2 separate regions of the Homo sapiens genome follow, and region 1 is linked to region 2. Evidence: fine-mapped expression QTL. A gene starts in region 2. The other region holds a variant in brackets. All regions are shown on one strand. Distances are between the middles of the regions.

What was found.
Region 1: its variant is fine-mapped to the expression of CANT1 in T cells (TOPMed, PIP 0.93).

The regions. Positions count from the first base shown.
Region 1 is chr17:78,987,113-78,992,448 of GRCh38, reverse strand. It overlaps CANT1 (calcium activated nucleotidase 1), which reads left to right. Exons shown (of 5, transcript NM_001159773.2): 5 at 1-733. Among named protein-coding and RNA genes, the nearest start is that of LGALS3BP, 9.9 kb to the right of the region's middle. The variant C/T (reference allele first, on the strand shown) is at 3,008.
Region 2 is chr17:79,006,714-79,012,086 of GRCh38, reverse strand. It overlaps CANT1 (calcium activated nucleotidase 1), which reads left to right and starts at 2,323. Exons shown (of 5, transcript NM_001159773.2): 1 at 2,323-2,423. RefSeq lists an enhancer at 1,934-1,983 and a silencer at 2,224-2,603.

The DNA of each region.
Region 1 (5,336 bases), 20 kb after region 2:
GTACTCCAGGGTGAAGGCAGAGTGGGATTTGAGACCCAGGTTAGGCACGACCCAGGCTGAGAAGGGACGTTTCCATCATTCACAGTGCCCTCCCCACAGCACTACCTCACCCCGACCCCCACCCTCACTCCTACCCCACCCCGCGATCGTCAGGGGTGCCACGGTGGGCCGGAGGGTGCCGGCTCTGGCTGTCCCTGTGCCGGTCCCTCACAAACCTCTCCCCCTTTGAAACTCAAGCACAGCTGCGAGGAGGGCAGCGAGGAGGGACCCCTCTCTCATGGTTGTCTCTTTCCCCCGCTATGTCATAGGTAGTGGAGGAAGCGAAGGAAGTGAACGCTGAATGTGACGCATTTCTGAAGAGCTCAGCTGTCACCGGGCATAGCCTGGAAGCCCCAAGTCTGTTCTGACTTTGCCTGGCTGTCTCCTTGACCCGCCTCCTAGATCATTGTCCTTGATGTCCAGGCTGGGTCATTTAAAATAGAGATGCAATCAGGAAGGTTGGGGGACTTGGGACTGTGGCTGAATTGAGACCTTGCTGATGTATTCATGTCAGCACCTGAGTCACAGCCCAGGTGCCCGGAAGCAGCCTCTTCGCATAGGCAGTGATTTGCGATTACTTTAAAGCTCACCTTTTTTCTTCCCCTCTCTGTTCGCTGCTGTCAGCATAATGATTGTGTTCCTTCCCTATGGGATCCATCTGTTTTGTAAACAATAAAGCGTCTGAGGGAGTGTAGTTTTCTGTCTCCCGGTCTGTGCTGACTGTTTGCAGAGGCCTGGCCACGAGAGCGCCTGCGCAGGATGCTGGGCATGCGCACGGGAGTCGCCCGCCAGGGCATCCCATCTGGAAACTGCGTCCTCCAGTCCGCCTTGTCCCACTATCTCAAGGCGCTCCAAGAGCACGAGCGCTGTGGTCAGAAAGGTGGGGTCTGAAGCCACTGCAAGCCCGATCCTGGCTCTGTCCCCATCCAGCTGCATGTCCTTAGGCAAATGACCTAACTTTCCTGTGCTTCAGTGTCCTCGTCTGCAAAAGGATGCTCATCGCAGAGCTCATCCCGGGGCTGCAGTGAACGGTAAGTGACTGGGTACGCGCAAGGGGCTTAGAACATCACCTGACGTGTGCTGGGCACCCACGTGCCCGTTTTGTTGCTGCTCATCCCTGGGGAGCCATCTGGATGACTTGGTAAGGAGGCGCTCAGGTGAGAGGTCAGGGCTGAGCTGGTGTCTTTAGTGTGTCAGTGAGTCCACAGGAACAGACGAGGTCGCTCCAAGTGACGCATGGAAGAATCCCCATCACTGAAACCACAGGCGCCAGGGAGGCAGGCACTGGCCAAGAAAGACCTCAACTAGAGACAGGACAGGGGCGGCCAGAGAGGGACAGAAAACCGGGAGAGCGGAATCAGAAAGGGCAATTGCACCCACATCGACCCCTTACCCTTCAGACCCACTCTCCTTCCCCGCCTCCTCCGGGTCCCAGACCCAGTGAACCTCCTCAGTGCCCTCTGGGATGGCCCCTGGGGAGTCCCTGACTCTCTCTGGCACTCGCCTCTCAAGGCAGCCCCCTGGTGCCACTCCCAGTGTCTGGGCTGAGTCCCCTCCCCTGGTCTCTTCTGGCCTGGGAGTGTGACATGGGAGTGACAGCTCCACTGTTAGCAGCTCCAGATGCTACAGCGGCCCCTCGTGCCGCCCGCACGCCCTGCTGTCTCATCCGTGGTAAATGGTCCCTTCACTGAAGCCTCCTTAGATGATCTTCATTCGGGTGTCGTCTTTTCCTGCTGGGAGCCTGACCAAGACAGCGCTGCAGGGAGGCGGCCTCTGCAGAAGGACCAGCGCGGCAGCGGGGTCCCCAGAGAGACTCCATGACTGAGCAGCAAGGAGAACTGGGCGTTCTCGGCGAGGATCCACAGAACAACAGTTCCAGAAAAAGCCAGGGCGCATCGGGCCGCGGCGGGTTGGGATAAGGAACCGCATGTAAGCTCTTGACCATCTGTTTAAGAAGCTGTGACATGCGGGACTCGTGGGGCAGTGACTGCCGGCTCCACACTCATGGGTCCGGCACACAGCTCATCTGCAAATGGAAGACTCTCCAGTCACCTCAACTGGACAAAAAAACGAGATTCAGTTTCTTTCATTCCACGTGTTAATCCTGTATTCCAGTATACTTTTTTTCTTTTCTTTTTTTTATTTTGGGGGGATGGAGTCTTGCTCTGTCTCCCAGGCTGAAGTGCAGGGACACGATCTTGGCTCACTGTAACCTCCATCTCCCAGGTTCAAGCAATTCTTCTGCCTCAGCCTCCCAAGTAGCTGGGATTACAGGCGTGCGCCACCACGCCCGGCTAATTTTTGTGTTTTTAGTAGAGATGGGGTTTCTCCATATTGGCCAGGCTGGTCTCAAACTCCTGATCTCAAGTGATCCATCCGCCTTGACCTCCCAAAGCGTTGGGATTACAGGCGTGAGCCACTGCACCCAGCCATGGTACACTATTTTATTTTATTTTATTATTTTATTTTATTTTATTTATTTTATTTTATTTTATTTATTTTATTTTATTTATTTTATTTTATTTTATTTTAAGACGGAGTCTCGCTCTTTCGCCCAGGCCAGACTGCAGTGGCACTATCTCGGCTCACTGCAAGCTCCGCCTCCCGGGTTCACGCCATTCTCCTGCCTCAGCCTCACGAGTAGCTGGGACTACAGGCTCCCGCCACCGTGCCCGGCAAATTTTTTGTATTTTTAGTAGAGACGGGGTTTCACCATGTTAGCCAGTTTGGTCTCGATCTCCTGACCTTGTGATCTGCCCGCCTCGGCCTCCCAAAGTGCTGGGATTACAGGTGTGAGCCACCGCGCCCGGCCCACGGTACACTTTAAATTGATAAATCTCAAGGTAAGTTATCCCTTCATGCTGTTAAAAGAGTTAAAGCAAAAATAAAATACCGTCACACTGTGAAAACCCCTGGCCCAGATGGCTTCACTTTTGAATTGTACCAAACATGTAAGGGAGAAATAATA[C/T]GAAAGCAACACAAAATCTTCCATGATTCTGGGAGTTGGGAAACTTTTCCAACTCATTTTATGAGGGCACCACTATACTGATACCAAAACCAGAAAAATACATTACAAAAAAAAAAAATACAGACCAGTATCCCTCATGAACATAGATGTAAAAATCCTGGCCAGGAGCAGTGGCTCACGCCTGTAATCCCAGCACTTTGGGAGGCCGAGGCGGGTAGATCACGAGGTCAGGAGATTGAGAGCATCCTGGCTAACACAGTGAAACCCCATCTCTACTAAAAAATACAAAAAAGTTAGCCGGGCACAGTGGCGGGCACCTGTAGTCCCAGCTACTCGGGAGGCTGAGGCAGGAGAATGGCATGAACCCAGGAGGCAGAGCTTACAGTGAGTCGAGATCGCGCCACTGCACTCCAGCCTGGGTGACAGAGCGAGACTCCGTCTCAAAAAAAAAAAATAAATAAAAATAAAAAATAAAAAAAGAATCCTTAGCACAGATTAGCAAGCCAAATTCAGCAATAATCAAAAATTAGAATGTTACCGGAAAGGGGTCTGATTCAGGTCACCAAGAGAGGGTTCTTGGAGCTCACACAAGAAATAATTCTGGGCACGTCCATAGAGTAAAGTGACAGCAAGTTTATTAAGAAAGTAGGCCAGGTGCGGTGGCTCACGCCTGTAATCCCAACACTTTGGGAGGCTGAGGCAGGCAAATCACGAGATCAGGAGTTGGAGACCAGCCTGACCACATGGTGAAACCCCATCTCTACTAAAAATATAAAAATCAGCTGGGCGTGGCGGTGCATGTCTGTAATCCCAGCTACTCAGGAGGCTGAGGCAGGAGAATCGCTTGAACCTGGGAGATGGAGGTTACAGTGAGCCGAGATCGCGCCACTGCACTCCAGCCTGTGCGATGGAGTGAGACTCCATCTCAAAAAAAAAAGTAAAGGAATAAAGAATAGCAACTCTAAAGGCAGAGTAGCTCCAGGGCTGCTGACTGTCCCTTTTTATGGTTATTTCTTGAGGATATGCTAAACAAGGGGTGGATTCTTCATGCCTCCCGTTTTTAGACCATAGAGGGTAACTTCCTCATGTTGCCATGGCATTTATCATGGTGCTTGCAGGAGCATAGCAGTGAGGACAGCCAGAGGTCACTCTCATCGCCGCTTGATTTTGGTGGGTTTTAGCCGGCTTTACTGCAGCCTGTTTTGTTGTTGTTGTTGTTTTTGAGATGGAGTCTCATTCTGTTGCCCAGGCTGGAGTGCAGTGGCACAATCTCAGCGCACTGCATCCTCCGACTCCCAGGTTCAAGCGATTCTCCTGCCTCAGCCTCCCGAGTAGCTGGGATTACAGTCGTGCGCCACAACACCCTGCTAATTTGTATATTTTTAGTAGAGATGGGGTTTCACCATGTTGGCCAGGCTGGTCTCAAACTCCTGACTTCGCGATTCGCCTGCCTCGGCCTCCCAAAGTGCTGGGATTACAGGTGTGAGCCACTGCGCCCGGCCAGCCTGTTTTATCAGCAAGGTATGACCTGTATCTTGTGCCAACCTTCTGTCTCCAGTGACTAAGAATGCCTTAACCTCCTGGGAATGCAGCCCAGCAGGTCTCAGCCGTAATTTACCCAGACCTGGTTCAAGATGGAGTGGCTCTGGTTCAAACGTCTCTGACAAGAATACTTCACGATAGGTGTGGTTTATTCTAGGAATACAGGGTTAGTTCAGTATTCTGAAATCAATCAATGAAATTCATATGAAGACTAAAAAGGGGCAGGGTGTGGTGGCTCATGCCTGTAATCCCAGCACTTTGGGAGGCTGAGGTGGGCATTTGAGGTCAGGAGTTCGAGACCAGCCTGGCCAACATGGTGAAACCCCGTCTCTACTAAAAACACGAAAAATTAGCTGGGGGTGGTGGGGCGCACCTATAGTCCCAGCTACTTGGGAGGCTGAGGCAGGAGAATCGCTTGAACCTGAGAGGCGGAGGTTGCAGTGAACCGACATCATCCCATTGCTCTCCAGCCTGGGCGACAGAGCGAGACTCCATCTCAAAAAAAAAAAAAAAAAAAAAAAAGACTAAAAAGGGGGAAAAGCATGATAATCTCAAAAGATAGAGAAAAAGCATTTGACAGAATCTAACAGCCATTCACCCAATCCAATTCTAAACAAAAAGCCAAAAAACCCGTTAGGGAACATCCTTAACCCGATGAAGGGCTCCGGTGAGAAGTCCACAGCTAAGCTCCTACTTCACGGTCAGACACTGAATGCCTTCCCCCTGAGGAACAACGCAAGAGTGTCTGCTTTCACCACTTTCTTCCCCACCATTTTTTCCTTTGAAA
Region 2 (5,373 bases):
TTATGGTTATTTCTCGCTCATATGATAAACAAGGGGTGGATTATTCATGAGTTTTCTGGGAAAGGGGAGGAGATTTCCTTGGAACTGAGGGTTCTTCCCCGTTAGAACATCTAGGGTAACTTCCTGACGTTGCCATGGCATTTGTAAATCATCATGGTGCTGGTGGGAGTGTCTTTCAGCATGCTAATACATTATAATTAGGGTATAATTAGCAGCAAGGACAGCCAGAGGTCACTTTCATTGCCATCCTGGATTTGGAGGGTTTTGACCAGCTTCTTTACTGCATCCTGTTTCATCAGCAGGGTCTCTGTGACCCGTATCTTGTAACCTCCTATCTCATCCTGTGACTAAGAATGCCTAATTTCCTGGGAATGCAGCCCAGCAGGTCTCATTTACCCAGCCCTTATTCAAGATGGTGTTGCTCTGGTTCGAAGGCCTCTGAGAGAGCCACTGGATCTCTCAATTATTGCATACAGTTTTATTTCATTTTATAAAGGTTAAAATAGACAGAATTAAACAATATATTGTTTAGGGATACATACCTATGTGCTAAAATTATAAAGTAAGGCAACAGAATGATTAACACAACATTCAGTATTGTGGCTACCACCTCTTGGGGGTAGCAGGGAGTACAGAACAGGAAGAACCTGGAGAGTTTTAAAGATGCAGGAATAATGTGTTATTTCTTAAGCTGGAAGGCACATGTGGATCTTTTAGAAAATAAAAGATTCAAATATAATTGTCACATGCGTCCATGTGAAGAGATTCCACCAACGGGCCTTGTGTGAGCAACAAGACTGTTTATTTCACCTGGGTGCAAGTGGGCGGAGTCCGAGAAAGGAGTCAGCAAAGAGTAGTGGGATTATCATTAGTTCTTATAGGTTTGGGATAGGTGGTGGAGTTAGGAGCAATTTTTTGTGGGCAGGGGGTGGATCTCACAAAGTACATTCTCAAGGGTGGGAAAAATATTACAAAGTACCTTCTTAAGGGTGAGGGAATATCACGAAGTACATTATCCTAAGGGTGGGGAGGGTGTATTGTCATAAGGTCAATTGATCAGTGAGGGTGGGGCAGGAACAGATCACAATGGTGGAATGTCATCTTTTGTGGTTCTTCAGTTGCTTCAGGCCATCTGGATGTATATGTGCAGGTCACAGGGGATATGATGGCTTAGCTTGGGCTCAGAGGCCTGACAATAATGAGTATTATGTGAGACATGGTTGGGACTCAGTTTAGCATGACAAGAAACATTAATGAATTCAAGAAAGGTTTGTCTCCTCTCCAAAATCAAAAACCAAAAGTGCATAACAGTGTTTAGCACATTTCTATTTAGTTAAAGGTAATTTAAGATACGTGTTTATGACTTGTTTGGATACCATATAACATCTAGTGATCGCCTCTGGGCAGGGAATACAGAACGGCAATGGGAGGCTTATTTTTCATTGCGTACCATTTATATAATTTGAATTCCTCCTCTTGTGTATCTTTTACTGAACGGAAGGTTTTGAGAGAGCTGGGGGAAGTAGCTGGTATCAAGCAGGAAAGCTGAAGGTGCAGATGGGCAGGGGGCTGGTGCACCCTTCTGCCAAGCTCTCCTGCCAGAGGCTCCACGGCCACCAGGCCTTTCTCAGAACTTTGGGATGGAGGAGGGCGGGGCCGGGGAAGCCTTTTAACAGAGTGCCCTAAAATATCTCGGGGGCTAGGGCTACGGAGGGGAAAGGAGAAATCAGAGACCCTTGTTTGGCAGGTTTGTCAACTGCAGATTTTTTGCAGGGAAACACCCCACCGTCCCCACCCCAGGACACTACAGCCTTAGACCTCCCTGATCCTGGCTTTGGCAACTGGTCAGCAGCACTCTGGAGGCGGCTGTTTTGAAGGGCCAAGGAGAGGGGCTGCCTGAGAATGAGGATGGCAGAAAGGGGCCCACGGTTTTCCGCCTCCCAAGACTACGAGGGTCGGGAGGCCCATGTAAGGGGGCCCTCGCTCGGAGAATGAGAACTTCCCTCCCTAGTAGCCTTCACCCCCCTCAATGCCTCCCACCCCAAAAGATCTGCTGGGCCCACGTTCCAGCGCAACGCGGTGGAAGACGGCCCTCATGTGCCAGTGCGGACCCTCGCGCCCCTCCAGCCTGCAGCCAGCCGGCCGCTCCTCCAGCGCGCAGGCGCAGGACGGAAAAAAAAAACACAAAAAAACAACAAAAAAAAAACCCAAAAAAACACAAACCACAGCTCCCAGCAGCCCTCGCGCCGTCCGCGCGCAGCCGCAGAGCAGAGGCTGCCGGGAACGCGGGCCCAGAGGCGGGGCGAGCGCGCGCGGGGCGGAAGTCGGCCACCTTCCTCCGTCCCGGCCGTTAGCCCAGCCAAGCCCAGCCAAGCCCAGCCAAGCCCCGCCGATCGCGGGCACCGGAGCCAGCCCCGCAGCGGGTGAGTGACTGCGCCCGCGGCCGCCGGCGCCCTGCCCCAGCCACGGGCCCGGACCCCCGTCCCGGAGCCTGCCGCCGCCCTCCGACCCTGCCGCGTCCCGCCCCCTGACCCGTCAGGCCCCCTTCCCGTCCCACCCGTGCGGGATCTCTGCCCCCTGACTCGCAGACTGGGCTGGGACTCTGCCCTCTGACCTGTGGGAAAGTCCCCTTCTTCCGACAGGCGGTGGACACCACCCCCTCTGACTTTTGGGACACCTCATCCCTGGGACTAGCGTGGGGACCATTACCCTCTGGTTAGTGTGGGCACCCCTCCTCTCTAATTAGTGTGGGGACCATTCCCCTCTGATTAGTGTGGGCACCTCCCCCCTCTGATTATGTGACTCCTCCCCGCTCTGATTAGTGTGGGACACCCCCCTTCTAATTAGTTTGGGGACCATCCCCCTCTGATTACTGTGGGGCACCTCCCCGCTCTGATTAGTGTGGGGACCACCCCCCTCTGATTCATGTGGGGCACCTCCCCCTCTGGTTAGTGTGGGGACCATCCCCCTCTGATTAGTGTGGGACGCCTCCCCGCTCTGGCTAGTGTGGGGCACCCCTCCTGGGAATGACCCCCTCCCACCACCTTCTGACTTCAAATACCCCTCCTCTGGTCTATGCAGGGTCTCCTTGGACTGATAAGGGAATTTTCTCCCTCTGACTGGCACTTGGTCAAACCTGTAACAGGCCAACCTTCCCCACCCCATCCCAGTCCTTGCTCTCCCTGCCCTCATCCAATTTGGAGCCTTCCTCCAGGCACACAGCTCACTCTCATCTTCCTGCATGCAAATGATTCGCCCTCCCCACCATACCTGTCTCACACCCCTACTGCCATCCGGTCTGGATTCTCTCATCCTTGGAGACTGGTACCTCCTTGCCAGTCCATGTTGCCTGGTGCCTTTGCTTCTCCCTCCGAATGGTCTTTCCCTTGCCCTCTGTGTACCCTAGGCTTGGCACAGAGCACCTGTGACCACTCTTCCATCAGCAGACACATCTCTCTCCCAAACACCTTTCCCCCTTAGTGACCCCTGGAAAAGCCGTCTCTTAGTGTCCCAGCTCCATTTCTTATTTTATTCTTGAGGTTGTATGCCCTATGGCCTTTCCTACCACATTTTCAACAAAGCAGAGGTTTGGAAATGTGAGGCTCTTGGTGTCAAGTGAATCCGGCTAGCTCTCCAGTGTAAGGGCCCAAACTTGAAACAAGTGTCAGGTCGTAGAAGGCTCCTAAAAGGAAGCGGGTGCCGCAGCCCTTCAGGATCCGCTATCTCCCAGCTCTTCCTCCCTCTCCCTCTGAGGAGCTTTGCTGAGAAAGGTCCCTCCAGGCCTGGACCACAGACCCTCCCTGCAGCCCCACCGCAGGCCTCTCAGCAGGACAGTCTGGCTGGAGCCTGTGGAACGGCAGTGGGGCTCCTCCCAGGTGCTCCTCCCTGCTGGCCTCAATGAGCCCTCTATCCTAGCACACGCCCCTGCTGAAAGGCACACTGAAGGAGCCAACCCTCTCCCCTCTGGACGTGGCAAGGGTTTCCTGTCGGGGCAGCCCCAGGCATCTTCACGGCCAGGACTCAGGTGAAGCATGGATTTGTCCAGGCACTGTCATGAGGCCACCGCAGCAGTGTGGGGACCAACTTCTAGTGTCACTTTTTCATGTCCAAATTAACGTGATCACAAAAGAGAATGACATGTCACAAGGTGGTAGAGGGAACCCTCCACTCGCAGCGGGATAGGACCCCTGGACCCTGGGACACCTCGCTGGAGGGGCACATCTGAGGCTTGACGCTTCTGATTGCCAGAGGTCTCCTTTCTTCCCCTTAGGCTATAACCATATTTTCCTAGCCCATGGCAGCTTAGTAAATGTGTTGGTGTAAAAGCTCTTGGTACTCCAGAACGTTTTCACTCACCCGTCACTGTGCACCTGGTCTGCAGGACCCCCCTGAGCTGCAGAGTACGTGAGGAGACCCAGGGTGTGGTAGCAGCAGTTCTCCTGGCCCTGTGGGTGTTTTTACCCTGCCACCTGGATGTGGCTTTCGAGGTGTGTGTGCCTGTGCAGGCTCCCCCAAGTACATATGGCCCGTCCTCGGAGTCTCGGTACTTTCTGGCAACCGTATAGGTAGATAGGTAGATGTATAAATGCTGTAGTGTTTTCTCTTTCAAAAACAGAAGATCTGAGACTTGGAACTATTGTCCAGGTCCTGAAATGGGTCAGTACTATCACAAGGAGGTCATTTTTCTATTGTTTGTTGAATGGTACCAGGGATGCCAAGGACACACAGCATTCATTCTTTTCACTCAGTGCACTCTGAACTATCGAGATTTCCTGGAAAGCTCTTATGAAATGCCAATATCAAGGGAATTAGAAACTTTTATATTAATTCTTAAGAATGTTCATGTTGATTTTCCTTTTACTTTAATCAAGATGGTTAATTAGGAAAAAATCATCCTGGCAGTAGAGAAGTCTGTTTGGGGAGACGTTCTGTTTTTTGTTTTGGACCCTGCTCGTCTTTGTCATGCGTGCAGTGGTCATGTGGAGCGCCTGGTTCCCAGGCAGGACGCTGCTCCCCGCGTTCCTCTGGGATGGTTTTATGGGAAGTGAAGAAGGCGTTGAAGTCTGGCTTAAGACTTAAGACAGTGCGTGATGCCACCATGTGGGAGTGGGGCAGAGGTGAGACTGGGACCCCCCAGAATGGCTCTGAGGGTGTTGCCGGGTTGAGTGAAAGTCCTGGCGATTCGGCCTTTGTGTCCCGGGAGCCGAGCCTGGAGGAAAGCGTGAGGAGAGAAGGTGGCAGTAAGCAGGTGGGCTCGTGCAGGTGCCACCGCGGTGTGGAAGGCAGCCCTGATCCAGGTCCATGGGGCGATGATCCCATCCCGTTATTTTCACACACTCTGGAAAAGGACACCTTCCCAGATGTGTGGTGCCA